Linked DNA regions of Homo sapiens. The protein of the gene in region 6 interacts with the protein of the main gene of each other region in a pairwise test. Each region holds a gene or a part of one and is shown on either strand. Other genes may lie near its edges. The genes, in order: EVPL, RBFOX1, SH3BP5L, KRT20, PROM1, PLEKHA5 and CEP250.

Region 1 (4,483 bases), on a different chromosome or scaffold from region 6:
TCTTGCGCCTGCCCCACCTCCCCGGCTCCGACAGTGTGAGGCTCCTCTAGATGGCTACTGAAGCCAGCATGCTGGCAAGGCTCCCTGGGGTGGAGGAGGTATAGGGGAACACAGGGCTGGAGTGCGAGGAGGTGGGGATGGGGGACATGCTGCTGCCTCCCTGCCCCAGCCAGCCCAACTACCCCTCCCAGGGCCCAGCCAGGCTGGCTCAGGTGCTAGTGGCTGAGCCGGTGATTCACTGGCTCGGGGAGGGAAGTGGCAGGTAGCTAGGTGGGGTCGGGAACTCACTGCCAGCACAGCTGGCTAAGGCTGGGACACCGAGGCCGCCTGCCCCCTCCCCAGCACCACACAAACCTGAGACCCTCACCTTTTGACCCCTCATGTGGCGGGGCAGTGCTAACACCCCCAACCAGGACTAGCTCACAGAGCCTTCTGCAGAGAGAGACCCCAAAGTCAGGGCAGTGAGCTAGGCTGTGGGGGCAGGATGGGGTGGAGGGAGGGCAGGGGATGCCACCTGGATGGGGCACAGAGGGGCCTCTTCCACCGAGCTACCCGCTGTCCCCTCCACACACTAGGGCTGCCACCCAGGAGCTGGCCCTTCTCATCTCCCGCATGCAAGCCAACGCCGACCAGGTGGAGCGGGACATCCTGGAGACGCAGAAGAGGCTGCAGCAGGTGAGGCCCCGGCAGCAGTTGGCAGGGCGTGGACAGGCTGGGTGGCATGGGAGGCCCATCATCAGGCCTGGCACTCCCTGAGTGCCCCTTGGTGATGGTGAAGATGGGACAGATGACCTTTGTCCTGCACCGCCCATCCCCTAACACACGGTGGGAGAGAGGGCTCAGCTTCCTTCTTTTCTGGGCTCCCCTGTGTCCTTGTCACCTGCCCCACGGACGCCCTGGTCCTGACCCTGTGCCTGGCGTGGGCCTCAAGGTTGGCTAGCATAGCTGGGGTCCCAAAGTTGGGGCTCAGGCCCACAGTGATGGGCAGCAGGGGTGTGGGGGCTCTGGGCCCTGGCCAGTCTGCCCATCTCCTGCCCACAGGACCGGCTGAACAGTGAGCAGAGCCAGGCCCTGCAGCACCAGCAGGAGACGGGCCGCAGCCTGAAGGAGGCTGAGGTGCTGCTCAAGGACCTCTTCCTGGACGTGGACAAGGCCCGGCGGCTCAAGCACCCGCAGGCTGAGGAGATTGAGAAGGAGTGAGTGGAGCTGCGGCAGGGCTGGGGGTCCCTGGGGAAGACCCAGGTCCAGCCCTGACCTGCCGGCCACCTTCTTGACAGCATCAAGCAGCTGCACGAGCGGGTGACCCAGGAGTGTGCGGAGTACCGTGCCCTGTACGAGAAGATGGTGCTGCCCCCCGACGTGGGACCCAGGGTCGACTGGGCACGCGTGCTGGAGCAGAAACAGGTCAGGAACTCAAAGTCACACCCCAGTGTGATCAGAGGGCGATACGGAACTGCATTTAATCCAGGGCCTGACTGCAGGCTTGAATAGTCAGGGTGTAGGGGTGGCTCAGGGGTCTGGGCAGAGAGACAGCAGAGTAGACAGTGCAGTCAGGGAAGACTTCCTGCAGGAGGAGGTACATGAAGAGACCTCAGAGGGGTGAGAGGGCTCAGTTGGGCCAGGGTGAAGTAGTGAGGAGAGGACAATTCCAGAAAGAAGGAGCAAAGGTTCCTGCCAGGAGGAAGCCTGGGCTTCGACGGGAAGTGGGGATTTCTGGGCAGGTGGGCAGAGCCAGGTCATGGGACATTCTGATCCCTGGTTGAGGAGTTGTGCTTTGATGCCACACAGAAGGGGTGTCATCATGACAATAGAGGGACAGTGGGGAAGGGCCCGGCTGGAGCAGGGCATTCTGAGGGCCCTAGAGCTTGGCTGGTGGTGTCCAGGCAGGAAGCACTGAGGCTGGGTCACAGACAAGGCAGGATGGAGCTGGAGACTTCTTAGAGGCTGAGCCCAGCGTCTGGGAACCAGTGGGACTCAGGGGCCACTGCAGAATGGCCTCGCCCCTGGGGGAGCTGCAGGGCATGCACCCGGGCTGCTCCCAGGCTCGTCCACGCTCTGCCCAAATGACCAAGTCCACTTCTCCGGGTGGGAGGCGTGTGGGGTTCTCTGGCTCCCCACCGCGGTCCTTTGGGGACTGAGCCGCCGGCTCTCCTGCAGAAGCAGGTCTGCGCAGGCCAGTACGGGCCGGGCATGGCGGAGCTGGAGCAACAGATCGCCGAGCACAACATCCTGCAGAAGGAGATCGACGCCTATGGGCAGCAGCTGCGGAGCCTCGTGGGGCCGGTAGGTGAGCCTGGAGGATGTCACATCCGGGGCCAGCCCCAGCCCGTTTCTCCAGTCAGAGCCGGAGCTAGATCGGCTGGGCCCTGGGGATAGGGGTGGGTGGGGTATGGCTGGCCCAGATCTTAGGGGGCCGTCTCCCTGCACCCCACCTCTCACGGGCTTGTTTCTCCCCTTGGTCGAGGCAGGATGCAGCCACCATCCGGAGCCAATACCGAGACCTACTGGTGAGCAGGAGGGAGGGTCGGGCAGGGAGGCTGCGGGTGGGCCTGGGTGGCCGCCCGGACCCTGCCCGGGGCCAGTGTTCCTGAGCGCGGCCCAATGGCGCCTTTTGCCCCCCACTTTCTGTCTCCCCACCCTGCTGCTGGCGGCGGGTCCTGAGCACAGAAGGCGGCGTCGTGGCGCGGGCAGAGCCTGGGCAGCCTGTACACGCACCTCCAGGGCTGCACGCGGCAGCTGAGCGCCCTGGCTGAGCAGCAGCGCCGCATCCTGCAGCAGGACTGGAGCGACCTCATGGCCGACCCTGCGGGCGTGCGGCGGGAGTACGAGGTCGGCTGGCAGAGGTCGGGGCCAGGTGGGGGCGGCCAGGGCCATCCGGGTCCTCACCGCCGCTCCCCACCCGACTCGCCCCCAGCACTTCAAGCAGCACGAGCTGCTGAGCCAGGAGCAGAGCGTGAACCAGCTGGAGGACGACGGCGAGCGCATGGTGGAGCTGCGGCACCCCGCGGTGGGGCCCATCCAGGTGCGCTGGGGCAGGGCGAGAGTGAGAAGGGACGTGGTGGGCGGGGAAGGGGGGAGGTGGGGCGGACGTGGGGGGGGCGTGGTCCGAGGGCTCCATGCTGCCGTACCCAGGCCCACCAGGAGGCCCTGAAGATGGAGTGGCAGAACTTCCTGAACCTGTGTATCTGCCAGGAGACCCAGCTGCAGCACGTGGAGGACTACCGCCGGGTGAGCCCTCGGGCAGGCGGCAGGGGCGGCAGGGGCGGCAGGGGCGGCAGGGGCGGGAGCACAGCACCCCTGCCCACAGGAGAGGCACTGCACCTCCCAACTAGACAGAGCTGGCAGGGCGCGGTGGCTCACACCTGTAATCCCAGCACTTTGGGAGGCCGAGGCTGGTGGATCACTTGAGGTCAGGAGTTCGAGATCAGCCTGGCCAACATGGTGAAACCCTGTCTCTACTAAAAATACCAAAATTAGCCAGATGTGGTGGCACGCGCCTGTAATCCGAGCTACTCAGGAGGCTGAGGCAGGAGAATCGCTTGAACCCAGGAGGCGGAGGTTGCAGTGGGCCGAGATTGGTCCACTGCACTCCAGCCTGGGTGACAGAGAGAGACTCCACCTCAAAAATAAAATAAAATAGAGCTGTGTGGTTGCCACTCGGTCCCAGAGGGAAAGAAAGGCATGGGCACATTCTCAACAGGGTGAAGCGGTTCCCAGGGGGGTGAAAATTGGTTCTTACTGGCAGAAAAATATCTTAACTCTTTTTATGCATGAAGTCCAGATCCACATACAGCACCTAAGCTGTATACAGCATATCTGTGGTATTAAAATTTCGTGGGGGCCAGGTGTGGTGGCTCACATCTGTAATTCCAGCACTTTGGGAAGCCGAGCCAGGAGAATTGCTTGACACCAGTAGTTCCAGACCAGCCTGGGCAACATAGCAAGACCCTGTCTCTATACAAATAGATACATCTCTATCAAAATAAATAAATAAATAAAATTTTATGGGGATGAGGTGGGGGGAAATTAAATAAAATATTTCTTAAAAGGCTCTTTAGGAGAATAATAATGAAAAAAAAAACGGTTGAGAAACCCTGATATAATATGCAACTGGGATTTGGGGGCAGATAATGTTTCATACATTTTCCTATAGAACCACAAGACTGTGATCACACACGTTGACAAAAATTCCGTCAAAGCACCTGGAATGCTTCTTTAAAGCACAGCTTCTTCTCCGGGGCTGGGACAAGTGCAGCTCCAATACCCTCTGTCCCAGCAAGAAAGACTTCAGGTGCTGGAGGGAGGCAGGTGACGGTGCCCTTCATTTGTGCAGGAAGGACGAAGACCAAGTGTTTTATGACCCACTTAAAAAAATTAAGTTCAGTGCACAAATAAGACCCCATTTGCAAGAGCACACCAGTGATAAAAGGTCCTGCCGCCTGGGTAGGAAAAAGAAAGACCGACCAGAGTAGGGGAGAGTGAC
Region 2 (3,391 bases), on a different chromosome or scaffold from region 6:
TTCTAGAACTTAACAACTCCACTGCACAGATGTAAATTTTATACATTTTTTTTAACTGGTACAAAGAATTTAAGTTTTTATTACTTTCTTTTTTTGGAAAAAAAGAAAAAAATAGAAACAGTGCTTTTTTATCACCTTTTTATTAATGTTATTTTTTCCCTCCCATAATATAAAAGTCAGCAGTGATATCAATAATTTATTATACTGGAAGAAATATAAAAAGAATGCTTGTTGATGGCCTAACTAGTGGGTTTTTTTTCCTAAATAGCGACTGGTTAAGAAGCTGAATACTGCCGGGTGGAATGGTTTAAAGGGTGGGTTTGCACAGCTTCATTCAACTCAGATGCACAAGTGCTACTAGAAGCACCCCCTTAACAACATGACCTTTGGCTTGAACTGGCAATGAGTAACTTAGAACCATTGATAAATGATTGTTGGTGCAGTGGGTCGTTTAGATTCATCAGTTACATTTTTTTTTTTTTCTTTCAGCCAAACCCCAGTTCCAATCCCCTAAGCCCCTCCCAACCTCCCCTTTCGCAAAATAAAATAATGCAGGTGCAGAAAAAAATGACTACTGTAGTCACTTACACTCTTCCCAAATAGCTGATAACCCCAGTAGCTTAATATTCAGCATATATAATTCATTTACATAATATAGCACTCTGGATATGGCCCTAAACCAGTTTTTATTCATTATCTAGCATCTGTCTAGATCAACCACAAAAACTCCTACAGCCAGCAACCAAACTACGGAACCTTCAGAAATTAAAGACCCACAATATTAAAATACACAGAACAAAATATCTGAGGTATAAGATAAAAAATGTAATTTTTTTTCCTTTTTATTTGTATTTTTTTTTTTTTTAGAGTTGCTAAAATGATGTACTACTGCATGTATTGCAATACTCAGGCCTCGGAAAGCTTCCTTTCTCCCCACATTGGAAGGTTTTTATGGTTTTGTCATTTAGTATGGAGCAAAACGGTTGTATCCCCCTCGGTATATACTAGCCTGCAATGAAGAAAGAACGAGACCCACATCATCAGCATGGCTCCTAGTCTTGGCATCAGTCAAAGGTGCAAAAGCATTCTGAAACAAAGCAATTTGAGGGGTGTGTTTTTTACATTTTCCTTTTGCAACATGTGGATCATCAAAAAGACTAATGTGAAAAATAGACACTCAAAACCAACCGAAATGGAGGCACCCCCTACCCATCCCAGGTCATTCTTGGAGAACTAAAGATAGGGCCATTCCTGACCTTCCCCAATAGCTCCTCCTAAAGAAATTCCCTGCAAAACCAAATTCTGTCAGCCAGTCCTCTTAGCTAAAAGGACTCTATTATAAGCTGGACAATGGAAGGATTTTCACTGTCTCATTTTTTTATAACAGAATAATCTGCACTTGAGGTTGAATTTGGACCAGTTGTTGAATGTAATTCAACTCTCCAACACATTCCTCATGTGGACTAGGTGTTGAAGCAGAGTTGTTGAATGCAGAATTGGGATGAAAATCTCAACCTACTTCTTACTTAACTTGGCTCTGTAAGCTGTATGGAATCTGATCTTGAGAAGGGAGTTGTGGAGTTGTACAGATGAATTGCTTGATGTAATTAAGCTTGTGCAAAACAATGCTTCCAAATCATGGCTGAATTTCTATGACTGAGCTTCAGTGAACTGTCCGGCCATGGTTTTAATGGCTACAAGGTGGCACTTAACGATTTCCTTTTTCTAAAAGTATTGGCAATTCAAATGAATGCCTATGGGGATTCATTTTTAGGGTAAGGACTGATATTCTTGATCCAAGCAGAAAACTGCATGCCAAAGCTTTGTAATGATTGCATATGCTCTCACGTGATGGGCACGTCTTACTGTACTCAAGAGTTTCAGTGCATAGAAGTTTGAACAAGTACAGGCAAGTTCACCCCACCCTTACCTCCCATTTTTTACCCTCCCCCCACCCCCTCCCAAAACAAAAACCCAGACCTGCCCCAAAACAAAAGGCAACCCCCAAACCCAGCTGATTCCTTCTACTTTCTTATGTACTAGGTACACACACAAAGTGTGCCCCTCTCTATTTTCTTTCCTGGGCGACTATGACTTTAAACATGAATTGTAATAGGGGAGGAGAGGCAGTCAGATTCTCAGCTGCCTGACAGCAGAGGCCTGGAAGTGTGCAGCTTAGCTCCTCTGAAGTCTGTGCTGGGGCTGGAACCTTGGGGCTATGTGAATGAGCAGCAAGGGAGGGAAAAAAAAAGAAAAAAAAAAGTTCTGCATTGACACTGCATTCTGTTAGTGATGGATTTAATTATCAAAATGACTAATTATTCCATTAAGGTAAGTGCTCTGCTAGGTGAGACTTGCAAAATTAGAAATATAATAACTTACATGCACTACATTGCCAAGAAATTAAGACATTTATCAAGTTTACTGGGAGGATTAATGTGGCATTTTAGCTGCTGTTAGCACAAGAGACAAATTCAATTAACGGGAAGTGAGAGGACGTCAACCCGTACTGAGGTCCCAGCTGGGGAAAGGGAAGGGAGGCAGGAGGAAGTGAGGACAAGGAGAAACTTGTACTCACCATGGCACCAACGCCGTAGGTGGGGGCTGGAGCAAGTGCGTGGTGGTAGGGGTCGGCAGCATAAACTCGTCCGTAACTGAAAGGAAAATAGAGGTGAAGATTGATCCACAGTATGCAATTACAAAACAATAACAATCATAAAATCCAAAATACCAAGACAGTATGCAGGGGCCCTACTCATCTTCCAGTGAGAAGCAAATTCTACTCTGCTGTGTAGTATAAGAAGAGTTCATCTGTACATGATACATTTTTTGTGCATTTAACATGGTTGCTATTGCTATGTTTGACAGATAAATACATATATACACACGTACTTACATATGCTTTTCCCTGCCTCCCCCCATAATACTGTTTCTACACTGCTCAAGTAGCTGCCTTAGAGACTGAGGTAGGTAAGAAAGAAACAACTTCAAGTATTAAGCCCAGCACCCACAGAGGGTATTTTAATTCTCAAGAGAGTGCCTTTTTCTCCTGATTCAGCTGTCACCATTCAAGTGAAATAGGGTGAATCAGAAAGGGTGAAGTGAACCTGTCTGAAGTTAGTGTCCAGCATCTTAGAATGGAAAGGAACAAGTATATTTGAATGGAAGCAGCCTTAAAGGGTCTGTGGGACCCCCATTCCCATTCCCATTCAATCAGACTGATTTGGTTTTGATCCTATTATTCCAGAACTTCTGTCACATTAATCCATGGCCAGGTTCTGGGAAGGGGGAGGCATTTGAAACAACAAATCTTAATGACATTTACTCATCTTTGTGTTTTTCTCTCTACCATCCTACTACCTGCCATGGCTTCTGGTATAGGCTTTAGGAT
Region 3 (4,483 bases), on a different chromosome or scaffold from region 6:
AAATGGAAGAGAGCTGAGAGGGGTACTGGCCTCAAGTCATCCTCCCTTGCCCGAGAAAACACAAAAGTTCCCAGAGCCCCTGGTGAGCTAAGGACACTACTGAGGAGCAGTGCTGGTCTGTGCCAAGGGCCTTGTGCCAGGAAATACCTGGTGCCTAGCTATAGGATTTGCCTTCACCAGCCCCTGCTGTCTCTGGACAGGAGGCTGGACAGGCCAGAGAGACCCAGCCCAGCATGTGCCTGCTGCCCAGACCCATGACTTGCACTTGGCAGTGACACCACAATCACTTCCCACTCATATGGCCGTGATGTTGGCCCCCACTCACCTCATTCGGGCCTTTCAGCAACCCAGTGAGGGAGTCAGGCTGACATGCACAATCTTCCTTTTAGTCCCTTCTACCTCTTCTATCCTCCCCCCATCCCCTGCCTTGATCCTGAAAAGATCTGGGTCAGCAGGTAAGAATACAGGAAATGGTTTGACATGTTAATTACAGTAACAGGAAGAACACAAAGGTAGAAACCTGTAATGGAACGAGGAATGAGGATATGAAAATGCACACACCTACCTACAACAGTGTAGACCCTGCCTAAGGAGGGCCACAAATCTGGCTCTAAACTAGGGATGTCCAATCTTTTTGCTTCCCTGGGACACACTGGAAGAAGAACTGTCCTGGGCCACACATAAAATACACTAACACTAACTACAGCTGATGAGCTTAAAAAAAAAAAAAAAAATCGTGGGCAGGCGCAGTGGCTCACACCTGTAATCCTAGCACTTCAGGAGGCCGAGGTGGGAAGATTGCCTGAGCTCAGGAGTTTGAGAACAGCCTGGGCAACATGATGCAAAGCCCATCTCTACTAAAATACAAAAAAATAGCTGGGTATGGTGGCACACACCTGTAGTCCCAGCTACTGGGACGGCTGAGGCAGGAGAATCACCTGAATCTGGGAGGCGGAAGTTGCAGTGGTCTGAGATTGTGCCACTGCACTCCAGCCTGGGTGAAGGAGCAAGACTCAGTCTCAAAAAAAAAAAAAAAAAAAAAAAATCACAAAAAAAAATCTCATAATGTTTTAAGAAAAGTTTACAAATTTGCATTGGGCCGTGTTCAAAGCCATCCTGGGCTGCATGCGGCCCACAGGCCACGGGTTGGAAAAGCTTGCTCTAAATTTTCTCGAAGAGACTTATTCAACAGAAACGTAACAGGAGCTGCACATGGAATTTTTAATTCTAGAAGCCACATTTTTTAAAAGTAAAAAAATTTAAAAAAAGAGTGAAATTATAAAAATACATTTAACCCAATATATACAAAATATATTTCAACATGTGATCAACATAAAATAATATTATTATCCATACTTTTACTTTTTTAAACTAAGTCTTCACAATCCGTATGCACTTGACTCTTGTGACACATCTCAACCTAGACAGTGGCATGTGGCTCCTGTGTTGGGTGGCGAAGGTCTAGAAGTTGTTGTATTTGGGTAGATGCATCTACAGTGTCCCACAACCCAGTGTCCATAAAATAACAACCATTCTGGAAGAACAGGCAGCCAACACAGCTCAGGGCCCCAGAGGAGGCATAGGGTCAGCATCAACACTACCAGACACATGGAACTCCAAGTTTCACAGTGCCTTCCGAACAGAGACATCACCAGCAACTGACACGATCACCCCAACAGGCCCTAAAAAGGCAATGTCTGTCAAGCTGAAAGGCAACCTACCTCCCTGGGGGCCCAGCTTCCTGGGGCTTGACGAGGCCTACAGGGGCTTTTAGGCTATCTGGGAGACGAGTGACCAGTTCTTTCAGCACCTCCTGCTGGAATATTCTTTCTCAGCAACTTTGCATTTGATAGATGAGAAACAACCAGGCGGAAAATTAGTGACAGACTTGGGTCTGGATCCAGGACCGACCTTTGATCTCACTTTCCTTCCACTGTGACCACCCTCCTGGGAATGAGGACACCACTGGAAGGACATCTCAGTAAAGAAAGAAGTGCTGTAATCTAGGAAAACCACAGCCCACGTAGGAAAAGGACAGGGATTGGAAATGCAACAAACATTGATTGTGGGGGGTCAGTTGGTAAAGGCCACCCTGCAATGTTCATGTGGCAAATCAAAGTCCAAGACGGGATCCCCACTGGATTCCATGGCCTCAAATGCTTCCAGTCATCAACTTCCAGCTCCTGACAAGATCATCAATGGATTGGATGGCTCAGCATAAGTTGTTACTACTGTTAAAAGGACAAGAAGAGCTGTTGCTATTGGCAAGTGGCAGGAGTGGGCATTATCTTTCTATATGGGAACTAGCTTCCCAGTGGCACCTCCAGCAATTTACAGAAAGCCATCTGCTGATGGGATCTGTCCCCTCAGAGTCACAAAGCTCTCCCTAACAGGACAAGAAGATGCCTGGGGAGCAAAGCAGCCTGGAGGGCAAGGTCACCACAGGAGGGAGGGGGATAGCCCACCTAGGCGACACCCAGGGAAAGGCTGAGCAGGAATCCACTGAGGACCTGGGACAGTTTTGGGCAGTCAGCAACACATTCCATTTGGCCTGCTTCACCAGGGACTCCTGGCACTCAGCTGAAACGGAATTTGGGGAGGACAAAGTCTGAATCAACGTGCATCATCCATCAGTGAGCCAGCAGCCAGCAGGGAGGGTGACCTTCCCAGGGCACAGCAGTCAGATTCCCAGGATGCCAGGACACTGAATCAAAGGCATGGGGACTCAGGCTGCAGATGCTCCCACCCCACCTAGTGCAGACCATCAAAAGACTCAAACTAATGGTAACTGGGGCCAGGGTGATGACTGTCCTGTGAAAGCTAAACCCATACTTCTAGATGAGGTCACAGAGGTTGCAAAGTCACCCTAGAGAGTTTGGAAAGGAGCAGGTAAACGAGAGCACTCACATCTGAGGAAAGAATGCAACCACTAAGAGGGGGCTGAGAAAGTCACAGAACAGACCCAGGTCCATCCTAGATCCACGCTCCTTTCCTCTTCCCTCCACTGGAACCCTCTCGGAAAGCTGAGGATGAGCCTGGAGGACTCAAAAGAACTCCACTAAGATCATGACAAGGAGACACAGCCAGCAGCCTTCCCTGGAGGGACAGCACGCTCCAGGTAGGCACCAGCTGACTTCCTTCTAACTTCCAGAGGAATCCCACCATAAATGGCCATGGAGCTGCCTGCCTGCAAAGGAGCCCCAGCCCCAGGTCAGACAGGGCCTCATCCGAAGGACAGCCATTTCCGGGAGCCTCAGAAAATACCGAAACAGGCGCTCTACCTTTGGGATATACCTGGCCCAGTGGATTTGGCTCTGACTGTAACATCAGAATCCCTTCTCACCCCACCCAGACTAAGAGAATCCACATGTCTGGAAAGGCTCAGGTAAGGGTATTTTTGAAGCTCCCTGGTGGCTTTTTATGGACGGTGGATGGAAACCCAGTAAATGCACTGAGAATCCAGAGAAATGAACACCCACCTAAAGCACTGAAACACATGATCAGAGCAATGTGCATGGTCTAGTGAACTGTCAACACTCAAAGGGACCTCGAAAGACAAACACCCCAATCTCCTCCTCATCTTGAAAGCCCAAGCACAGAAGGGCAAAATGCCACCGGCCTCCTCCGTGAAGGGTGCCCCTCAAGCCAGGCTGCCTCTCTCACACAGCAAGAAGACACTGACTCCCTGCTGAGGTCAGAGCACTGGCGTACCCACACCTGTGTCATCAAATGAGGGAAGCTATTACTAGACCTTTCCTCCCTATACAACCCACAACATTCCACAACGTGTTGTGCAGTTTAGCAAGAGAGACGAGGGTCTGCTTTACCTTTCCTGCACCAGCGACATCACAAGTTCACTGGAGGCAAAGTAAGTCTTACGCTACCTCAGTGTACTCCAACTCTCATAGAGCTCATCTGATAGAAGAGTCAGTGATGACAGAATATTCTATTTATGCACTGTCAGTATAACATTGAGGAACTGCTTTTTTTTTTTTTTCTGAGACGGAGTTTCGCTCTTGTCACCCAGGCTAGAGTGCAGTGGCAGATCTCAGCTCACTGCAACCTCCGCCTCCTGGGTTCAAGCAATTCTCCTGCCTCAACCCCCCAAGTAGCTGGGATTACAGGCACCCGCCACAACACCTGGCTAGCTTTTTTTATTTTTAGTAGAGACGGGTTTTCACCATGTTGGCCAGGCTGGTCTCAAACTCCTGACCTCAGGTGATCCACCTGCCTCGGCCTCCCAACATGCTGGGATTACAGGTGTGAGCCACCATGCCTGGCCGAGGAACTGCATTTTTACATGTTAATTTTAATTGATTGTGTTTAAATAGCCACATGCAGCTAGTCCACCCTATTAGACAGCACAATGCAAGCATGACTCTTCCTACTACTACCATGTGCCTATGCAGACACTGGAAAAATACATAGGAGTAGTAGAGGCCAAGTAAAGAGACCACAGTGGATTCTCCTCTGCAGAAGCCTT
Region 4 (4,410 bases), on a different chromosome or scaffold from region 6:
TATTCGTTGTTCTGGCGTTCCATGTTACTCCGAATCTGCATCAGTTGGGCCTCCAGAGAGCTCAACAGCGACTGGAGGTTGGCTAACTGGCTGCTGTAACGGGCCTTGGTCTCCTCTAGAGTGTGCTCCAAAGACTCTTTCTATGAGCACAAGAAAAATAGGGCACTTCTTATGTGAGGACTTGATTCAAGAGATGGGTTAATTTTAATTTCCTTTGAGAAGGGTCTCTGCAGTTCATCACTGTGGGCATGGTGTATATTTCTAGCTCCATCTCCCACTCTTCCCAACTAGGCAACCTCAGCCAGCCAGCTAGGATCATTAGCTCTTGGGGTTTTTCTTTGCTTGTAGCTTTGCACCTACTGTTCTTTCAGTGCGGCGCATTGTAGCATTGTTCTCAGTACTTGCTTCCCCACTGTGTGAAGATGTTATACCTCTCACTCCTTCATCAGACCTGGCCATGTGATCTGTGGCATTTCTCAATTGCAGGATTAGATTCCTTTAATCCATTGACACCTGGCTGGGTCATGTGACTCTCTTTGGTTAATAAAATGCAGGTCAAACTGACAAATGCCTTTTCTTTTTCTTTTTTTTTTTGGGACGGAGTCTTGCTCTGTCGCCCAGGCTGGAGTGCAGTAATGTGATCGCAGCTCACTGCAACCTCTGCCTCCTGGGTTCAAGCGATTCTCCTGCCTCAACCTCCCAAGTAGCTGGGATTACAGGCACACACCACCATGCCCAGCTTATTTTTGTATCTTTAGTAGAGATGGGGTTTCACCATATTGGCCAGCTGGTCTCAACCTCCTGACCTCAAATGATCCTCCTGCCTTGGCCTCCCAAAGGACAAATGCCTTTTCTAAGGAGAAGCTTTAAGAGCTATCAAGTGGACCAACCATTGCTCTTTTCTTTCTGCCAGGACACTGGCATGTCCTAGGTAGGGCCTACCCCTTTAGCCTTGCCCTTGGAAAGGAAATGTCACGGTGGATGTAGTATCATGGCTGCAGGCCACTGTGGTTTGAGGGATTCTGCTTACCACAACATAATTTGTCATGGGCTTGCTGATTTGCTTGGCCTGGAATGTCTCTAGTCCATTCTCCATCTTAAAATTTTATCTTAGATTTTGAGATCTGGTATAATGGACACATACAGGGGAATAGCAGACATGGGGGCCTAACAGAGGGTGGAGGGTAGGAGGAGGGAGAGGATCAGGAAAAATAACCAATGGGTATTAGGTTTAATACCTGAGTGATGAAATAACCTGTACAACAAATCCCCATGACACAAGTTTAACTACATCATAAATCTGCACATGTACTCCTGAACTTAAAAGTTACAAGAAGATCTGGTTTAAATGCCACTTTCCCTGTGAAATCTTCCAGATTTACTCTTTCCTCTGCATTCATGCAGTACATTGCCCTTTCCTCGATTTCTCTCTGTCCTTTAATTATAATCAGTTGTTCGGCCTGTTTCCCTGCCAGTTCTGCAAGGGGAAGGGTTATTTCTTGTAGGTCTTTGCATTTCTATAGTTCCTAACAGAGGACCTTGGTAAACACATACTAGATTGAGAAAGAGAAGTTAGATATGCTTTACCATGCTGAGATGGGACTGGAGTTCTATCTCAAGGCTCTGGGAGGTGCGTCTCAGCTCCGTTAGTTGAACCTCAGTTCCTTTTAATTCTTCAGTATTCACTGTGACCTGTTGCTGCAGAACTGCAGTCTACAGTGCCAAGAGTGAAAAAAAAATAGTTGAGGGGTGGAAATAAGAAAGAAAAGACAGAAAGAGAAAGGAAGAATGAACAAATGAAAAAGAAAATGAGTTATCTGTTTCTGGAGGAAAGCATCTACACGTTTGCTCACCCTTTAGAATTGTGTGGTTACCTGTCTCTCAAACTGTTCTTTGGCCTCTTGAAGGTTCTTCTGGGCCATGACTTCATACTTCTGCCTCATTTCATTCATGATGACGCCAAGGTTCAGGCCTGGAGCAGCATCAACCTCCACATTGACAGTGTTGCCCAGATGCTTGTGTAGGCCATCGACTTCCTATGAAAGTGAAATTTCTGATTGATTTTAGTCTGAAGCACATTCTCAGATAAGGCTGGGCAGAAAAGACATAAGGAGTCTCATGACCTCTTTCATTGGGAATAAGTAAAAAAGATATAAAATAATAACTTGTGTTGGGCTTATTGTGGTCCAGGTGCTGCTCTAAGTCATTTAACTTACAACAACATTATGAAAAGAAGGTAGGGCTTGTATCATTATTGTCATCGTCATCATCTCTGTCACTATCACCACCAACTCTTCCCCCTTCTCCTGTTTCTCCCGCTCCTCCTATTATTAGTATTATATAGAACCATTCCATTGTTTCCAATACCACTTCTGAATATTTTCTCACCTCCTGATGCTCCTTTTTGAGGAGAGCTAGGTCTTTATTCAGTTCTTCAATTTGAATCTCCAAATCTGTTTTATGTAGGGTTAGGTCATCAAAGACCTTATTCAGGCCTTGGAGATCAGCTTCCACTGTTAGACGTATTCCTCTCTCAGTCTCATACCTGTGAATTAATTAGTGTACAGAGATAACTGGTCCTTCTGAAGCCATTATAAGGAGAGAATCTAATATAATGGGATAGGTTTTTAAATGTGGCTTATGAGGAGATCAATTTCAATACTTTATAATGTCTGCCTTTACACAATCATGAAATTTACATAAGAACCTAGGAGTCAGAAAATGTGCTCAATAATATAATCTCTATAATTTGGGGTGACTGGTAAAAAGGCAATCTGAAATAATTTTGAACACTTCTAAATTCTAGAATTTATCTTATAAGAAATTAAATTGTGTTAATTATTGTGTTGGCAAAGGGTTCTTATTATTGATATTAAATAATGGTTAGTTTTACTTAATGAATGTACATGATCGATTTATTTTTATTACTTTGTGAACAGAGACATCCAAAGTGAATTATCTCAAACAGCTCTACATCCTCCTCTACAATCTTACATACACACTGTGTGTGTGTGTGTGTGTGTGTGTGTGTGTGTGTATTTGAGACAGGGTCCCACTCTGTCACTCAGGCTGGAGTACAATGGTGTGATCATGGCTCACTGCAGCCTCAACCTTTGGGGCTCAAGCAATCCTCTCACCTCAGCCTCCCAAGTAGCTGGGACAGCAGATGTATGCCACCATGCCCAGCTAATTTTTTTTGTATTTTTGTATAGAGATGTGGTTTTGCCACGTTGCCCAAGCTGTTCTCAAACTCCAGGACTCAAGTGAGCCTCCTGCCTCAGCCTCTCAAAGTGCTGGGATTACAGGCGTTAGCCATCATGCATGCCCTGCCCAGTTTCCTAAAATATCCAACTTTAAAAAATGACACTGCAATGTGACACTCAGTGCTAGGTAAAATTGGAAGTAATGCACCTTTACTGCTTTCATCTTTGGATTTGATTTCCTATTTCCTTCTTGTTAATCCCTTGGAGCATTAAAAGGCTACCCTTCTAACCACAAAGGGCTTTTTGGTGTTAATGCATTGTACAAATTCAGGATGAAGAGGCCTTAGTGTGGAAGCTGTTTGCAAGGAACAGGTCTGGTCACATGTGGTGTGATGACTACAAAGAAAGTGAACACAATTTTTACTTTCTTTTTCTTTTCTTTCTTTCTTCCTTTTTTTTTTTGAGACAAGGTCTCAGTCTGTTGCCCAGGTTGCAGTGCAATGGCACGATCTCAGCTCACTGAAACCTCCGCCTCCCAGGTTCAAGCGATTCTCCTGCCTCAGCCTCCGGAGTAGCTGGGATTACAGACATACGGCATCACGCCCAGCTAATTATTATAGATTGGTCCTGGTTCTTTGGTTGGCCAGACCATCCTGTAAAACACTGGCAAGCCAGAAATCATCAAGAGTCACCCCTGGAACTTGGGTCATACACTTGCAGGCACTTGAATGAACGTGGAGAATTACTTGGAGAATCACCAAGGGTAGACACAAGACTCTCTTTAGATAACAGAAAGGCACTTAGGGAGAAGGAGAATTGTAAATTACTTTGTTATTACTCCAAAGGGCAGAATTAGGTTTAGATACCAGGTTACTAAAAAAAAATTTAGCAACCAGTAATAACCAAGGAGAATAGTAGTTACTGGAGGTGTTTAGTTACATGCCGGGGGATCAAGAAAGAGAAGGCCATCCCTGAGTGCTGGGTTAGCTTCATACATGTAGCTTCTAACCTCCTTTAGGCTTCAGGATTCTGGACATTGAACCGTGCTTCCTTTATCAACAATGATATGGAAAGCTGAGTATCTGGAAGGACTACTAAAGGAATTCTTTTTCAGAAACTTTTGCCACGTATTAGGGAACCTACTTCAGTCTGAAGTCCTCAGCAGCCAGTTTAGCATTATCAATTTGCAGGACACACCGAGCATTTT
Region 5 (4,483 bases), on a different chromosome or scaffold from region 6:
GATCTTCCTGAGCAGCCTCTAGGCCTCCCCTCTGTCCCTGGTGATCTGTGGAAAGGCATCTGGTGGCTATGTGGTTCGACTGAATGGGGTGGGTGGTGGAGGCTGGACATAGAGAGACGTCAATTCAGAATCAAGCAGGTTGGCTCTGGACTCCCCTAATGAAGGCTTCAGCCAAAGCTGGCGGCAGGGGCCACCAAGCACAGGACAAGAAAAGTAGTTGCAAGAAGAAGGAAGCATCCAGGAAGCAGGGCCTAGGGTCTGCGTGGTTGGGTCGGAGGCAGAATCCTTTTCACTCAGGCATGAAAGACCCTCCAGCAGACAGATGGACAAGTGAACGAGGGAGGTGGACAGACAGGGCAATAGGGATGAACTGTGCCAGAGAGCTACCTGACAATGCATCAGTGATACTCTGTGCCAGGTATTATGCCAGACAACAGGGACACAGCCTTGAATGCACTGGTGACTCATGGAGTGGAGAGTCTAGAGTGTGCTGGAGAGACAGGTCTTAATCAAAGAAACATATAAATATGTAATTGAAACAGCAATAACATCTCTAAAGGAAAAGCATAGAGTTCTACAGGAATGAGGAAAACGGAGCTCAGCCTAGTTTTGGGGATCAGAAAAGGCTTCCTGGAAAAAAGACATGTTTGAGCTAAGACCTGAAGGCGGAACAACAATAGTAGTGAATATTCATTGAGTGCTGATGTTCCAACAGCGTGAAGGGCTTCACATGTGACCTCTCACTGAATCATCAAAACAGCCCATGTAGGCGAGGAACTCAGAAAATTTCAGGAATTTTTCAAAGTCACAGAGTTCTGAAAATGTAGAAGTGGAATTTTCATTCAGAGTTGATGTTCTCCACCATTGTGTTACCAGACCTGGAGGAGTTAGGTCTTAAAGTGGGGAGTGGGTAGGTGGGAAGCGGAAGAGGAGAGAGAAAGAGAAAGGCGGCGTGTGCCCATCTCCAGTCCAGGCAGAAGAAACGGCATGTGCATGGGCCCTAAGGTGGGGAAATTGAGATTTATTTGATGAAGTGAAAGAAGATGAGTATGTCTGGAGCACAGAAAGAAAGGCGGGCAGGCAGAGAGCACACAGTGAGATCTGGAATGGGGAGGCTCAGCCATGCAGAGCCTAGTATGGGCTATGAGGAATCCTGATCTTTAGATAGCAATGGGAAGCCACTGAGGTGCTTTCAGCAGAGGGAGAGGATCCACTCACAGAGAGAGTCAGCATCTGTTGAGGAGGGAACAGAGCTGAGGATTAAGCCTGACTAACTGGAACTTACCATCCCAATAGTCACATTTCTAAGGGCTTTTTAATGACAAATGAAATTTGATGCAACTTTGGGGTTGTAAATGTAGTTGTACTGAGTATTCTTTTGAAGATGAGAAATCTGCACACCCGTGACTGTCTTTCTGATTATTCTGAACTAACAGGAGTTTTCTCCCTGCAGGTCTCCTGACTCATAAATATAATCCTAGTGAGGAAAGAAGACAACCGCCCAGAACTTTGACTTTTCTAGTCTATTAGCATCTCAATACACTGATCAAAATATTACATTTTAGGTTTTGGATTCTCTCAAGCAGAAAACAAATATTATAATGTATATCATAATCCAGAAAAACAACCAAAGATGATGGATTCATTGTGTCTTCTTTTGAAAGATGAAATCTTACCAAGGGGTCGATAATGTAGCTACACAGAAAGACATCAACAGCAGTATCTAGAGCGGTGGCCACAGGTTTGCACGATGCCACTTTCTCACTGATCTAGGGGGGTGGAAACACAGGGAAACTTTGAGCTGCATCCACAAAAACCCAAAGGAATGAGACGTGCCATTTACTTTTGACTTGGTGTCACAAAAAGGATCTCCATGTCCTCTAAGACAGGGGTCCCCAACTCCTGGGTCACAGATGGATACCAGCTAGTACCGGTCCACAGCCTGTTAGGAACTGGGCTCCACAGCAGGAAGTGAGGGGCGGGTGAGCAAGCAAAGCTTCACCTGTATTTACAGCTGCTCCTCATCTCTTATGTTACTGCCTGAGCTCCACCTCCTGTCAGAGCAGCAGCAGCATTAGATTCTCATAGGAGCATGAACCCTATTGTGGAACTGCACATGCGAGGAATCTCAATTGTGCTCCTTATGAGAATCTAATGCCTGATGATCTGTCACTGTCTCCCATTACTCCCACTGATTCTACACTGTGGTGAATTGCATAATTATTTCATTATATATTACAATGTATTAATAATAGAAATAAAGTGCACTATAAATGTAATGCCCTTGAATCATCCTGAAACTACCTCCACCCCCGGCCTGTGGAAAAACTGTCTTCCACTAAACCAGTCCCTGGTGCCAAAAAGGCTGGGGACTGCTGCTCTAAGACATGGAACTGACGGCTGATGTGCATGGATGAGTTCTGCATATACAGTTACAGTCGGCCCTCCATATCCCTGAATTCTGCATCCATGGATTCAACCAATCATAGATTAAAACATATTCAGAAAACAATGGATAGTTGTACCTTTACTGAACATGTACAGACTTTTTTTAATACAGTATACCAACTATTTACATAGCATGTACATTGTATTAGGTATTATAAGTAATCTAGAGAGATTTAAAGCACACAGGAGGATGTGCATAGGTTATGTGCAAATAACTATATCTTTTATATAAGGGACTTGAGCACCCAAGGATTTTGGTATCTGCAGGGGACTCTGGAACGAATAACCCATGGATACTGAGGGACAATTGTATATATTTTAAAGCAAGATCCTTATTCTCTCTGAGCCTCGGTTTCCAGTTTCCTCATTTGTTTTGGAACAGTGAGACCCAGCCTACAGGACTCTGAGAGAATTAAAAAGTTCTCGTGCCCAGCATAGTGTTTTAGTTCAAATTTGTTACCTGGCCCCTTTGTTACCTGAAAAAGGGGGTGGGAAGCAAATGGAAGAACTGCATATGGCAAAGGTGAGCAAAGGGGACCAGGAGGTGGCTGTCCTCTGACCTGGTGGGAAGCCCCAGAAGTCTTGGTCCTGCACATCAATGTCCTTTCACTTACTTCCTACCAAATTATGGGAAATTTAATTTTATTTCTTCCAGATTTTACCCTAGAAAATGGCTATCCTGAAACTTGACCCCCCTTAACATTCATAAAAGATAAACTACTTACAGAGAACTCGATCCACTGCAGATAATGTTCAAAATATCCTATTATTGTTCTCCCATACTTCTTAGTTTCCTGGAAAGAAACAAAAGATGAGTAGAAGCATTAAAATGATGACAGCATACTTAAACATTATAAATATTTAATCTGTAACATTCAAGTGCCCACTTATGGACACGCTTACTTTAAAAAAGAAGGCTCACCTCAATAATAACAGAGGAAGTATTGTTTGTGATGAAGTTCTGAGCAAAATCCAGAGAAGCTAGAATCCTAGTTACTCTCTCCTGAAAGACACAGCCACAGTTATCAGGGTATCAAGTCATAGAAAGTTTTAATTAGACAATTTGCATATTGATTCAAGTACTGTAACTCAGCTCTGCAACACCACGACCTGGACCTGCTAGTTAAGAGGAAGACAGAACCCACCCAGGCCCCTGAGGGCAGGGAAGGAGATGAGCTGAAAGTGAGCATTTACTCTAGCCCAGACACTGGGCTAGTCCTTGATAGGAATGGCCTTGCTGGACTTGCTGGAAACTCACAACGAGGCAGGAAGGAAGGTACTGTTTGTTAGGTTCCCTTCACAAATGAGGCAGCTCAGCCTCTTCACGGTCACCATGCTGGGGAAACATACGACAATGCTGGGATTTGCACCGAACTTTTTTTTTTTTCACTACAAAACCCATAGTCTTTGCACTACAACACAAGCAAAGACGAGTCCTCTGCCAACCCACATGGCAGCTTGGTGCAAATTGGAAATGGGGCCTTTTCTGCCCAGGGACCTCAGGGCACAGAGCCTGGCAACTCAGTCAATGGCCAGTTTCTGCCCTCGACTAACCCCCTTGGCTGGGCCCCTCATGAAAGGCCTTGCACCACTGCACACCCTCGCCCTGTTCACAGAGGTAGCAAAGCACCTGCACGTAGTCACTGGTGTGTTTCCAGGTTCCCCTGGCATGAGACACACACCTATGAAATGGCAACTGTGATCAGAGGCATAGCGAGGGTCCTGGAGCAGAGTAAATCTAAACATCTTCAAAGGAGCTGAGCCATGATGTTGGTCTCACTGAGAAAAGTGGAAGGAGGAACATTTAGTTTTATCCTGTGGGGCTGATACCCAAAACCTGTCATGTACAGACTATTCCGTTCAATGAAAAAATATCTTCTGAGTTGCCCATTGGTACTGTAGATACAAGATGAATACAACCCAGCCTTGCAGCTCTGTGTCTGCTGAGGGAATGCTTGCAGCCCACACATGGCCCCTGTGGTAGGTAGATTGCATTAGCTGTTCAGGATTATTGATATGCTCCTTGGATGGCTTC
Region 6 (4,483 bases):
CCCACCTCAGCCTTACGAGTAGCTGGGACCACAAGTGTGTACCACCATGCCTGGCTAATTTGATTGATTGATTGATTGAGAGAGACAGGGTCTTCCTATGTTGCCCAGCCTGATCTTGAACTCCTAGGCTCACGCAATCCTCCTGCCTTGGTCCCCGAAAATGGGGGATTATAGGCATGAGCCATGGTGCCTGGCCAAAAATCTTTATCTTTAAAGATATTTAATACTTTTTTTCTGAATAATTTTTCTATGTGCCCTAAGCTAGCCAGCCTCTTAATTATGTTACTATGTGTTTGTGTGTGTAAATACATTACACAGAGTTTGAGTTTGATTATTGAATTTTCATATTGTTTTTATAACTTAATTTATGCTGTTATCTTTATGAAGAATGCTGAAAATAAGTGAATTTTATAACTTGTAAAGTGTGGCTTTAAATATTCCGTATTCTTATGAGAACGCAAATAACTTAGCCCATAAAGCACAGAAGAAAATCTTATACGTTTGAGTTATAAAGCTTTCTGCTTGCTCCTTGAAAATATTGCTTAATGATTCTGTAATGACAGGCCATGGTAACTTAAAATGGATGTGTCATTTACTATTCCTTTGTGCTTCAAAGCTTTAAGATGGTTAACTTAGAGTGCCAAGTAAATCTTAAGGCTCTCTGAATAGTGAGAAACTTTATTCTGATTATTTAAAGGTCATTGCAGGACTGGGTATCAAAACAATATTTGCGGGGGTAAAATAGTATGCAAATTTTTTAAGGTTATGTTTTCATACTGCTTTTTTTAACTTAAAATTCTAAGTTCTGAAAATTGAACTTTTTCTTACATAGGCAAATAGAGTATGAGGTTTTGTTTCAATATCTGCAATAGCTGGATCTAATGTATGCTAATTCCAAACTTACCAAAACTAGCGTTGCAAGTAAGGAGAAAAATCTGTTTCTTCAGATTTTCACAATTCAAAATATGAATGAAGATGGGGAATCTAACAAGTGCCATAAAAAACATTAGAATATATTAACTATGTATTTGATATTTAAAGTTGTTTTATACTTTACTTTTTTTTTTTCTTTGAGACGGAGTTTCACTCTTGTTGCCCAGGCTGGCATGATCTCAGCTCACGCAACGTCCACCTCCCGGGTTCAAGCAGTTCTCCTGCCTCAGTCTCCCAAGTAGTTGAGATTACAGGTGCCCACCACCACCACGCCTGGCTAATTTTTTGTATTTTTAGTAGAGAAGGGGTTTCGCCACGTTGGCCAGGCTGGTCTCAAACTCCTGACCTCAGGTGATCCGCCCACCTCGGCGTCCCAAAGTGCTGGGATTACCACCACCCCTGGCCAAAAACTGTTTTATACTTTCTATAATAATATAACCAAATTTTGATTACTAGAGCTATATAATTCTTTAGAACACTTTGTGGGCATTATATTTCTTTTCCATATTTATAACAAGAGTTTTGGACTGTTAATATGTGATTCCTTACATTGATAAAGCACTTTATGCTAATTCATTAGTTACAAAACAACTACGAACTATGATCTCAGCTTTCAAGGAGTTTGTAGTGTAGAGATAAATATGCAGTATATTAAAACAGGGAGATGGTTTGGGGAACATAGACTTATTTAGTGCTAGGCACTTCAGCATAGCATTAAACTCCTATAATCCTCACAATAGCCTTTTTGTTGTTGTTGTCTCTTTCGTTTTCAAGTTGGTGTGCCAGGACTACCAGCCTCAGTAGACTTTGTTGTGGAATTCTTTTATTTTTAGCCCCAGGACCACTGCTTAGGGCCAGGTTTGCTCAATATCCTCCTTGTATTTCCTGTGATGCCCAGCATCTAGTCAGCCTCTAAAGAAGTGGTATCTGTGATGATGATGATGCTGGCTCCTAGTTATTTAAGGAGTTAATCAAGATGGGGAAAGAATAGTCCCCACAACTCAAGTGGTTGCATTTTAAGAACACTTTCTGGATTTGTCAAGGGACTTTTTCTTCCCTAATCTGGATAGACCCCTTCGTTTCTTCTTATTCTCAAAGCTGGCCTATATTTAGGAAGGGGGAGGAAGTGGTCAATACAAAAACACAAAAAGTATTGGAAGAGTTGAAGAGTCGATGACCTGGAGACAGGGCCTTACATAGGACCTGTCTGTCCTATACAGGATGGAATTTCTTTGAATTTGTTAGCAGATGCTCTTTTCTTGTGACTGTTTCATTTTTTTAAATAACAGATAAATATAAGATGAAATTAAGGGTGAAAAGTTATGTGTATATGTGTATGTGTAAGTTAGAGTTAATGGTGTAAAAAAATGGCACGGCATGGTGGCTCATGCCTGTAATCCTAGCACCTTGGGAGGCTGAGGCAGGCGGATCACTTGAAGTCAGGAGTTTGAGACCAACCTGGCTAACATGGTAAAACCCTGTCTCTACTAAAAATACAAAAATTAGCCGGGTGTGGTGGCGGGCTCCTGTAGTCCCAGCTACTCGGGAGGCTGAGGCAGGAGAATCGCTTGAACCCAGGAGGGAGAGGTTGCAGTGGGCCGAGATCACGCCACTGCACTCCAGCCTGGGTGACAGAGTAAGACTCTGTCTCAAAAAAAAAAAAAAAAGAAGATGCTAGTTTGAGTCATAAGAATTCAGAGGAGGAAGAGGCAGCCTAGGCTGGGCTGCCCTGGAACGACTTGAAGAGGTGGGAGTTGAGCTAGGCCTGAGGGTATAGATGGGATTCACTTTCAGATGAGTTGATAAGACTGGGAGGATACATTCATGGGGCTGGGAACACGTATAATATGTGAATATGTGTGATGAGTAATACTAACTAGGCTTGTTAGTGATGGTTCTGTAGAAAATGCTAGGATGATGGGAGGTGAGTCTAGGAATGCTGTTTGGAACCATACTGTGTCCGGTCTTTGAATGTCAGGCTGAGGTTTTTATTTTCCGGGCAAGCCTTTGCAGATGTTTTTTAGTATAGCGTTAATTATGCAACATGAAGGTTTTAGGGAGATTTCAATACAGGCAGCATGGATTGGACAGGAGCAAAGTGGGAATCAAGGAGACCATTTCTGAGTCTGTTGCCATAATTGGGTAGTTACTTGAACTAAGTTTGTGGCAGCGGGAATGGAAAGGAAAGGCCATTGATCAAAGATGTTAAAGACGAGCTGACAGGCCTTAGGAGTCTTGCTGAGCAAGGAGGTTGACAGAAAAAAAGAGGTCAAAAGCTCCTCAAAGCCTTTGTGTCTGAGTGTCTACAAGAATGATGATGAGACCCTTGACCGGAATAAAGGAGTAGGTGTGGGAGGGGGAGCCCCAGGTGGACATATTAATGGTGGTTTGGTTTTTGAGCTGCTTGAGAGGACATAGCATTTCAGGTGGCTAAAATCCGACTTTCACAAAGGACTCCTGACATTATCTTTTTACTCCCCTCAAAAAGCAAACACAACCCACTCCCCTATCCTATCTCAGCTACCTAAATGACTATCTAGCTATTTATAGATTCAGGCTGGGAATTTCATATTCATCCATCTAATTATTCATTCAACAAATGCTTATTGAATATTTACTGTGTGCCAAGTGCTTTAAGCTTTATGAATGAAACAGACATGGACACTACTCTTAAGAACTTTATAGTTGAATTAGTGGGGGAGCCAGTAATAAAATAATCATGCAAATATGTAAGATAGACTGTGATAAATGCTATGAAGAATATCTAATGTTTTGACTACGTATATTGAAAGGCCTTAGCCCGTTGTGGGGGTTGCTGGGAGAGGCATTTCTCACAGTTAAGCTCCAAACCCCTGCAGAGTGGATCAGAATAGAGCAGTGTAAAGTCACTGGAAAGATGAAGAATAAATAGCCTCCTGGTCTTGAGATTGGACCACAACCTGAGTGAAAGCATTGCTATATATAAAGAAAGACTTGGGGGATGGGGTTGGTATGGTATGGCAATTTATGAAAAGGAGAAAGCTGCTGCAGAAGCTGCTCTTTATCATCCAATAGATAACAATGTTTAGCCAACTGATTTTAATGATTATCTCAGTCCCAGTGGCAAGGTCTTCCAATTAGTCACTCACTCATGTGTTCTTCCAATTCTCTTGAATACATTTTGAACTCATAGTTGTGTGCCTTAGTGATTAGTGTACATCAGTAAATGAAATAAACCAAAAAATTCTGCCCGTCTGGGGAGTGGGATGATGGGGGAGAGAATGTCAAAGTAAACAATAAATAAGTACATTTTATAGTATGTTAGACTACACATAAATCCTCTAAGCAAAAAGTCTACTTTTTAAGTCTACTTTGGTTTCAAGAAAACAAGGAAATATATTACTGAAGTCTGTACTATCGTGATTAGTATGGAAGAAGTGAATGTAGACTAAATTTTAAAATACTGAAATCAGTGGGTCCAGTAGAAACCCAAAAGAAATAAAGAGGTCCTCATGAGGTACAGATGATAGACATTTCAGAGCCACTGGGGGAACATCTTGGCCACTAAGGA
Region 7 (4,483 bases), on a different chromosome or scaffold from region 6:
GCAGGTAAGGATGGTCAGGGACTTTAACAGCAACAGCTCAGTTTTCATCCAAGTCCTGAAGTTAACTCCTTCCAGTACTGACCAGGGCAGCATCCAGAATACACAGGCTTCCTCTCACAGTTCCAGTCCCCGTTCTTCCTACCTCCTGCTCCATCTGCCACTGGCTCTCCTTCCTCATTAGCTCATCCCGGGCCCGGCTCCAGTCCACTGTCAGTTTTTCCACATCTTCCCTAAGGGCTTTATTCACCACGTCAGCTTTTTCCATGTGCAGTCGAAGCTGGGTGTTCACCTCTGCTAGACTCTCACACCTGCACTGGGGAGGGGTAAAAGTGGGTGCAAAATAAAGGTCTAGTCCAACCCTTGGACCTCCTGGGAGTAAGATGGCAACCACTGAAATTTTCCATTGCAGGAATTAGAGGGCTATGGCTGAAGTCCACATTAGCCCTCAGGGCAGAAGTTTCCCATCAGCCTTCTCCACCAACTGGCCAATCACCCAGGTCAGAAAGTTTGGGGTCCATCACCTCTGTTGCTCCTCCTCCAATCGGACCAGCAGCTCATCCAGGTTTGGCTCCTCCACATTTTCCCACCTCTGGGGGATTGGTCCCTGCGCCAGACAGAGACAAGCCTTACTTACCTCCAAAGAGAACATCACTCAGACCAGTTCCCTAAGGCTCCCTTCCATGGCAGTCCACTTTCTTTTTATTCTTTCTCCCCTTTGTTAGCAATATGCTTCTATTCTCAATCACTGCATCCCTCACTCCAAAAGTAAACTGATGACCTCTCCTGAAAGACGGCCTTCAGTAGTAAATAGAATCTTCAACTTAAGAAGTGATGTATCTTTCACTAATGGCCTTAACTTCCACTACACTAACGGTTTGACCTTGGGAAGTGACTTAACTTCTTTCATTTTTTTTTTTTTTTTTTTTGGAGACAGAGTCTCGCTCTGTCGCCCAGGCTGGAGTGCAATGGCACAATCTCAGCTCACTGCAACCACCGCCTCCCAGGTTCAAGTGATTCTCCTGCCTTAGCCTCCCAAGTAGTTGGGATTATAGGCACCTGCCACCACACCTGGATAATTTTTGTAGTTTTAGTAGAGATGGGGTTTCGCCATGTTGGCCAGGCTGTTCTTGAATTCCTGGCCTCAAGTGATCCACCCACCTCAGCCTCCCAAAGTGCTGGGGTTACAGGCATGAGCCACCACACCCAGCCTGTGAAGTCACTTAACTTCTTGGAGCTACAGTGTCTCCAGCTACAAAATGAAAGCGGTATATCGTTCCCTTCAGAAAGTTGCTGTGCAGGTTAAGAGACACAATTATAGATGCTCCTTGACTTATGCTGGAATTTCATCCCATAAATCCATCATAAGTTGAACATAAGTTAAAGGTGTGTTTTCAACTTACGACGTTTTCTTTTTTTCTTTTCTTTTTGAGACAGTCTAGTTCTGTTGCCCAGGCTGGAGTGCAGTGGCATGATCTCGGCTCACTGCAACCTCTGCCTCCTGGGTTCAAGTGATTCTCCTGCCTCAGCCTCCCGAGTAGCTGGGATTACAGGCACGCACCATCATGCCCGGCTAATTTTTTGTATTTTTAGTAGAGATGGGGTTTCACCATGCTGGCCAGGTTGGTCTTGAACCCCTGACCTTGTGACCCACCCACCATGACCTCCCAAAGTGCTGGGATTACAGGCATGAGCCACTGCGCCTGGCTGACATTTTCAACTTATGATATTTTCAACTTAACAGTGAGTTCGGGCCAGATGCAGTGGCTCACACTTGTAATCCCAGCAGTGGGAGGATTGCTTGAGTCTAAGAATTTGAGACCAGCCTGGGCAACATAGAGAGACCCTGTGTCTACAGAAAATAAAGAAAATTAGCCAGATGTTGAGGCATGTATCTGTAGTCCCAGCTACTTTTTGGGAGGCTGAGGTGGGATGATCGCTTAAGCCCAGGAGGCTGAGGCTGCAGTGACTCATGACTGCACCAGTCCACTCCAGCCTGGGCGACAGAGTAAGTAGGACCCTGTCTCAAAACAACCAACCAACCAAACAAACAAAAACCAACCAAACAAGCAAGCAAAACAACCCCAAACAATGGGTTTATCCAGCTGTAACCCCATCATAACCCAAGGAACATACTGAATGCATATAGCTTTCACATCATCATAAAGTTGAAAACTTGCAACCATCCTAAGTTGGGGAGGACCATCTGTATATGACAGTGCCTCATGCTGCCTGGACTGCATTGAGGGTGCTCAATAAGTTTTGGTTCTTTCCTTCCTCTGAGAGAACTTTTCTGAGGAAAATGTGAGGAGGTACTGAGAGGCAGCTGGAACAAAGGCAAATAAATGGGTTTTTCAAAGCCAGTTCTAATAGCACAGACATCCCTTTGCTGCAGACATGCTGTAGGCTCGCAAAGGCCTGCATCTTTCTAAAAGAAACACTGACACCTGCTGGAGGAAACATGCACTTCTTCCTGCTAATCCCACACTCCTTCCAATCTAATTTACATTTCGTCCTTTGAAAACCAAGGGTTGGAATCTGACAGGCCAGCTAGGTCCAATGAAGATATCAGTGTGATAAACCTCTCAGAGGCTGAGAAAGAGAGCCTTCCACCAAACACCTCACTTGTACACTCCAACCTCCCTCAGTCAACAAATGAAACCTAACAAGTATATTCACTGAGGACCCAGGGGGTGCAGAGAGCTCAGCCTCACTCACTCCAGTGGCTTCTAGCCGCTTCTCCAGCTCTTGGCACCAGCTTCGGTACTGCAGCACCTGCAGCAAAAAGAACAGGCCCTGGGCAATGAACACAGCTGGCACAAACAGCCCAAAGCAAAGGCCCCTGAGGATCTTAGGCAAACTTGCTATGAACAGGGGAAATGGGTGGTGACAGTAAGGTAAGGCCATAACATCTTATAGTTTCTATTTGGGCATTTTTTTCTTTTTTGAGATGGAGTCTCGCTCTGTGTCCCAGGCTGGAGTGCAGTGGCACAATCTTGGCTCACTGCAACCTCCGCTTCCCAGATTGAAGTGATTCTTCTAACTCAGCCTCCCGAGTAGCTGGGATTACAGGCATGCGCCACCACACTCAGCTAATTTTTGTATTTTTAGTAGAGACAGGGTTTTGCCATGTTGGCCAGGCTGGTCTCAAACTCCTGACCTCAGGTGATACACCTGCCTCGGCCTCCCAAAATTCTGGGATTACAGGCATGGGCCACCGTGCCTGGCCTTATTTGGGCATTTAAATAATACTTTCTATATGAGCGAGACTCTGTCTCAAAAATAAATAAATAAATAAATAAATACTTTCTATATGCCTTTTATATCACAGAGGCAAGATCATGGGCTTTGGCTCTAGACTAGCTGAAGAAACCTGGATAATTAACTTAACCCTTGTGAATTTCATCTTTAAAGAGATATATTAGCCAAAAGTGGTGGTGTACACCTGTGGTCCCAGATACTCCAGAGGCTGAGGCAGGAGGACTGCCTGAGCCCAGGAGGTTGAGGCTGCAGCGATCTGTGATCATACCACTGCACTCTAGCCTGGGCAACAGAGCAAAACCCTATCTCAAAAATAAAATTAAATTAAAAGGATATAATACGTACCTCATGGAGCAGTTGTGAGCATCAAAAGAGAAGCTGTACATGAAAGCTAGAAGGTCTGGGTCTTATCTCACCATGCTAGATGTAGGCCACTCCCACCACAAGACTCTGCCTCCTGCAACCCTTATCTCACCTCAGCACCTAGCTCTGGGGGTTGTTCTCTTTCCCCTCCCCAAAAGGGCAGCTGCCTCACCTTGGCCTGCAGCTTCCTCACAAGGGTTGCTTGTCTCTGCTGGGCCTCCTGGGAGTTCTTCAGCTTCCGCCAGGAGGCTGCCTGATTCTCTGCCATCTGCTGCTGTAGTGCCAGCACCTGCTCTTCCAGTACCAGCTGCAGTGACTGGGGCTTCATGTTGTTCAACCCAGGGCTTCTTGTCTCCATGAGGGCACCAGGTGGTAGGCCCACAGGTCCCTAGGTAGCCAGAGGGTGTTCACGCCCAGCAGGGTCTCTAACCATTGCCATGCCACTTCAACCTCCTCTTGAACTGGGGACCAAAGCACATAGTCAAATGGAAAGGACTGTTCTTTTACTACACACAAGACTCCTCAGAACCTTTAAAATACTAAAAGGGACCCTCATCTCTGAAGGGCGCTATGATGAGCATCATTCCCCAAATTTAACTGACCATGAGACAAGCTCACAGGACTAGTGTCTCCTGGCATGACTTTTGGAACTCTGCACTAAACCAAGAGCTCCTGGTTTATCACTGCATCCTTAGTTCCTGGCACAGTGGTTCAGAAACATTTGTTGAATGAATCGCTGAAGGTGTTCTTAGTCTAGCAGGGGAAATAGACACAAACTATTACAATACATACAATGTAGCATGTGAAATAATAAGATAATATGAGAAAACAAAGGAAGAGAACCCAGCCTGGGAGCCTGTGA

What was found.
Region 1: the proteins of PLEKHA5 (region 6) and EVPL interact in a two-hybrid assay, tested with the Homo sapiens proteins (one large-scale study listed by BioGRID and IntAct).
Region 2: the proteins of PLEKHA5 (region 6) and RBFOX1 interact in a two-hybrid assay, tested with the Homo sapiens proteins (one large-scale study listed by IntAct).
Region 3: the proteins of PLEKHA5 (region 6) and SH3BP5L interact in a two-hybrid assay, tested with the Homo sapiens proteins (one large-scale study listed by BioGRID and IntAct).
Region 4: the proteins of PLEKHA5 (region 6) and KRT20 interact in a two-hybrid assay, tested with the Homo sapiens proteins (one large-scale study listed by BioGRID and IntAct).
Region 5: the proteins of PLEKHA5 (region 6) and PROM1 interact in a two-hybrid assay, tested with the Homo sapiens proteins (one large-scale study listed by BioGRID and IntAct).
Region 7: the proteins of PLEKHA5 (region 6) and CEP250 interact in a two-hybrid assay, tested with the Homo sapiens proteins (one large-scale study listed by BioGRID and IntAct).

What each region holds. Positions count from the first base shown.
Region 1 is NC_000017.11:76,020,213-76,024,695, reverse strand, and holds part of EVPL (envoplakin), read left to right. Parts: intron 1-575; coding exon 576-675; intron 676-1,041; coding exon 1,042-1,196; intron 1,197-1,277; coding exon 1,278-1,404; intron 1,405-2,157; coding exon 2,158-2,283; intron 2,284-2,468; coding exon 2,469-2,507; intron 2,508-2,667; coding exon 2,668-2,829; intron 2,830-2,914; coding exon 2,915-3,022; intron 3,023-3,132; coding exon 3,133-3,228; intron 3,229-4,483. UniProt on the Homo sapiens protein: Component of the cornified envelope of keratinocytes. May link the cornified envelope to desmosomes and intermediate filaments.
Region 2 is NC_000016.10:7,708,319-7,711,709, reverse strand, and holds part of RBFOX1 (RNA binding protein fox-1 homolog 1), read right to left. Parts: intron 2,655-3,391; coding exon 2,579-2,654; intron 2,217-2,578; coding exon of another isoform or gene 2,069-2,216; exon of another isoform or gene 1,088-2,068; coding exon 965-1,087; 3' UTR 1-964. UniProt on the Homo sapiens protein: RNA-binding protein that regulates alternative splicing events by binding to 5'-UGCAUGU-3' elements. Regulates alternative splicing of tissue-specific exons and of differentially spliced exons during erythropoiesis.
Region 3 is NC_000001.11:248,818,682-248,823,164, forward strand, and holds part of SH3BP5L (SH3 domain-binding protein 5-like), read right to left. Parts: intron 2,581-4,483; exon of another isoform or gene 1,722-2,580; intron 1-1,721. UniProt on the Homo sapiens protein: Functions as a guanine nucleotide exchange factor (GEF) for RAB11A.
Region 4 is NC_000017.11:40,878,226-40,882,635, forward strand, and holds part of KRT20 (keratin, type I cytoskeletal 20 precursor), read right to left. Parts: coding exon 4,347-4,410; intron 2,546-4,346; coding exon 2,389-2,545; intron 2,037-2,388; coding exon 1,875-2,036; intron 1,714-1,874; coding exon 1,588-1,713; intron 141-1,587; coding exon 1-140. UniProt on the Homo sapiens protein: Plays a significant role in maintaining keratin filament organization in intestinal epithelia. When phosphorylated, plays a role in the secretion of mucin in the small intestine.
Region 5 is NC_000004.12:15,982,587-15,987,069, forward strand, and holds part of PROM1 (prominin-1 isoform 1 precursor), read right to left. Parts: intron 3,452-4,483; coding exon 3,371-3,451; intron 3,243-3,370; coding exon 3,174-3,242; intron 1,770-3,173; coding exon 1,677-1,769; intron 1-1,676. UniProt on the Homo sapiens protein: May play a role in cell differentiation, proliferation and apoptosis. Binds cholesterol in cholesterol-containing plasma membrane microdomains and may play a role in the organization of the apical plasma membrane in epithelial cells.
Region 6 is NC_000012.12:19,135,989-19,140,471, forward strand, and holds part of PLEKHA5 (pleckstrin homology domain-containing family A member 5), read left to right. Parts: intron 1-4,483.
Region 7 is NC_000020.11:35,461,864-35,466,346, reverse strand, and holds part of CEP250 (centrosome-associated protein CEP250), read right to left. Parts: intron 4,083-4,483; 5' UTR 3,980-4,082; coding exon 3,794-3,979; intron 2,773-3,793; coding exon 2,716-2,772; intron 605-2,715; coding exon 522-604; intron 314-521; exon of another isoform or gene 309-313; coding exon 143-308; intron 1-142. UniProt on the Homo sapiens protein: Plays an important role in centrosome cohesion during interphase. Recruits CCDC102B to the proximal ends of centrioles. Maintains centrosome cohesion by forming intercentriolar linkages.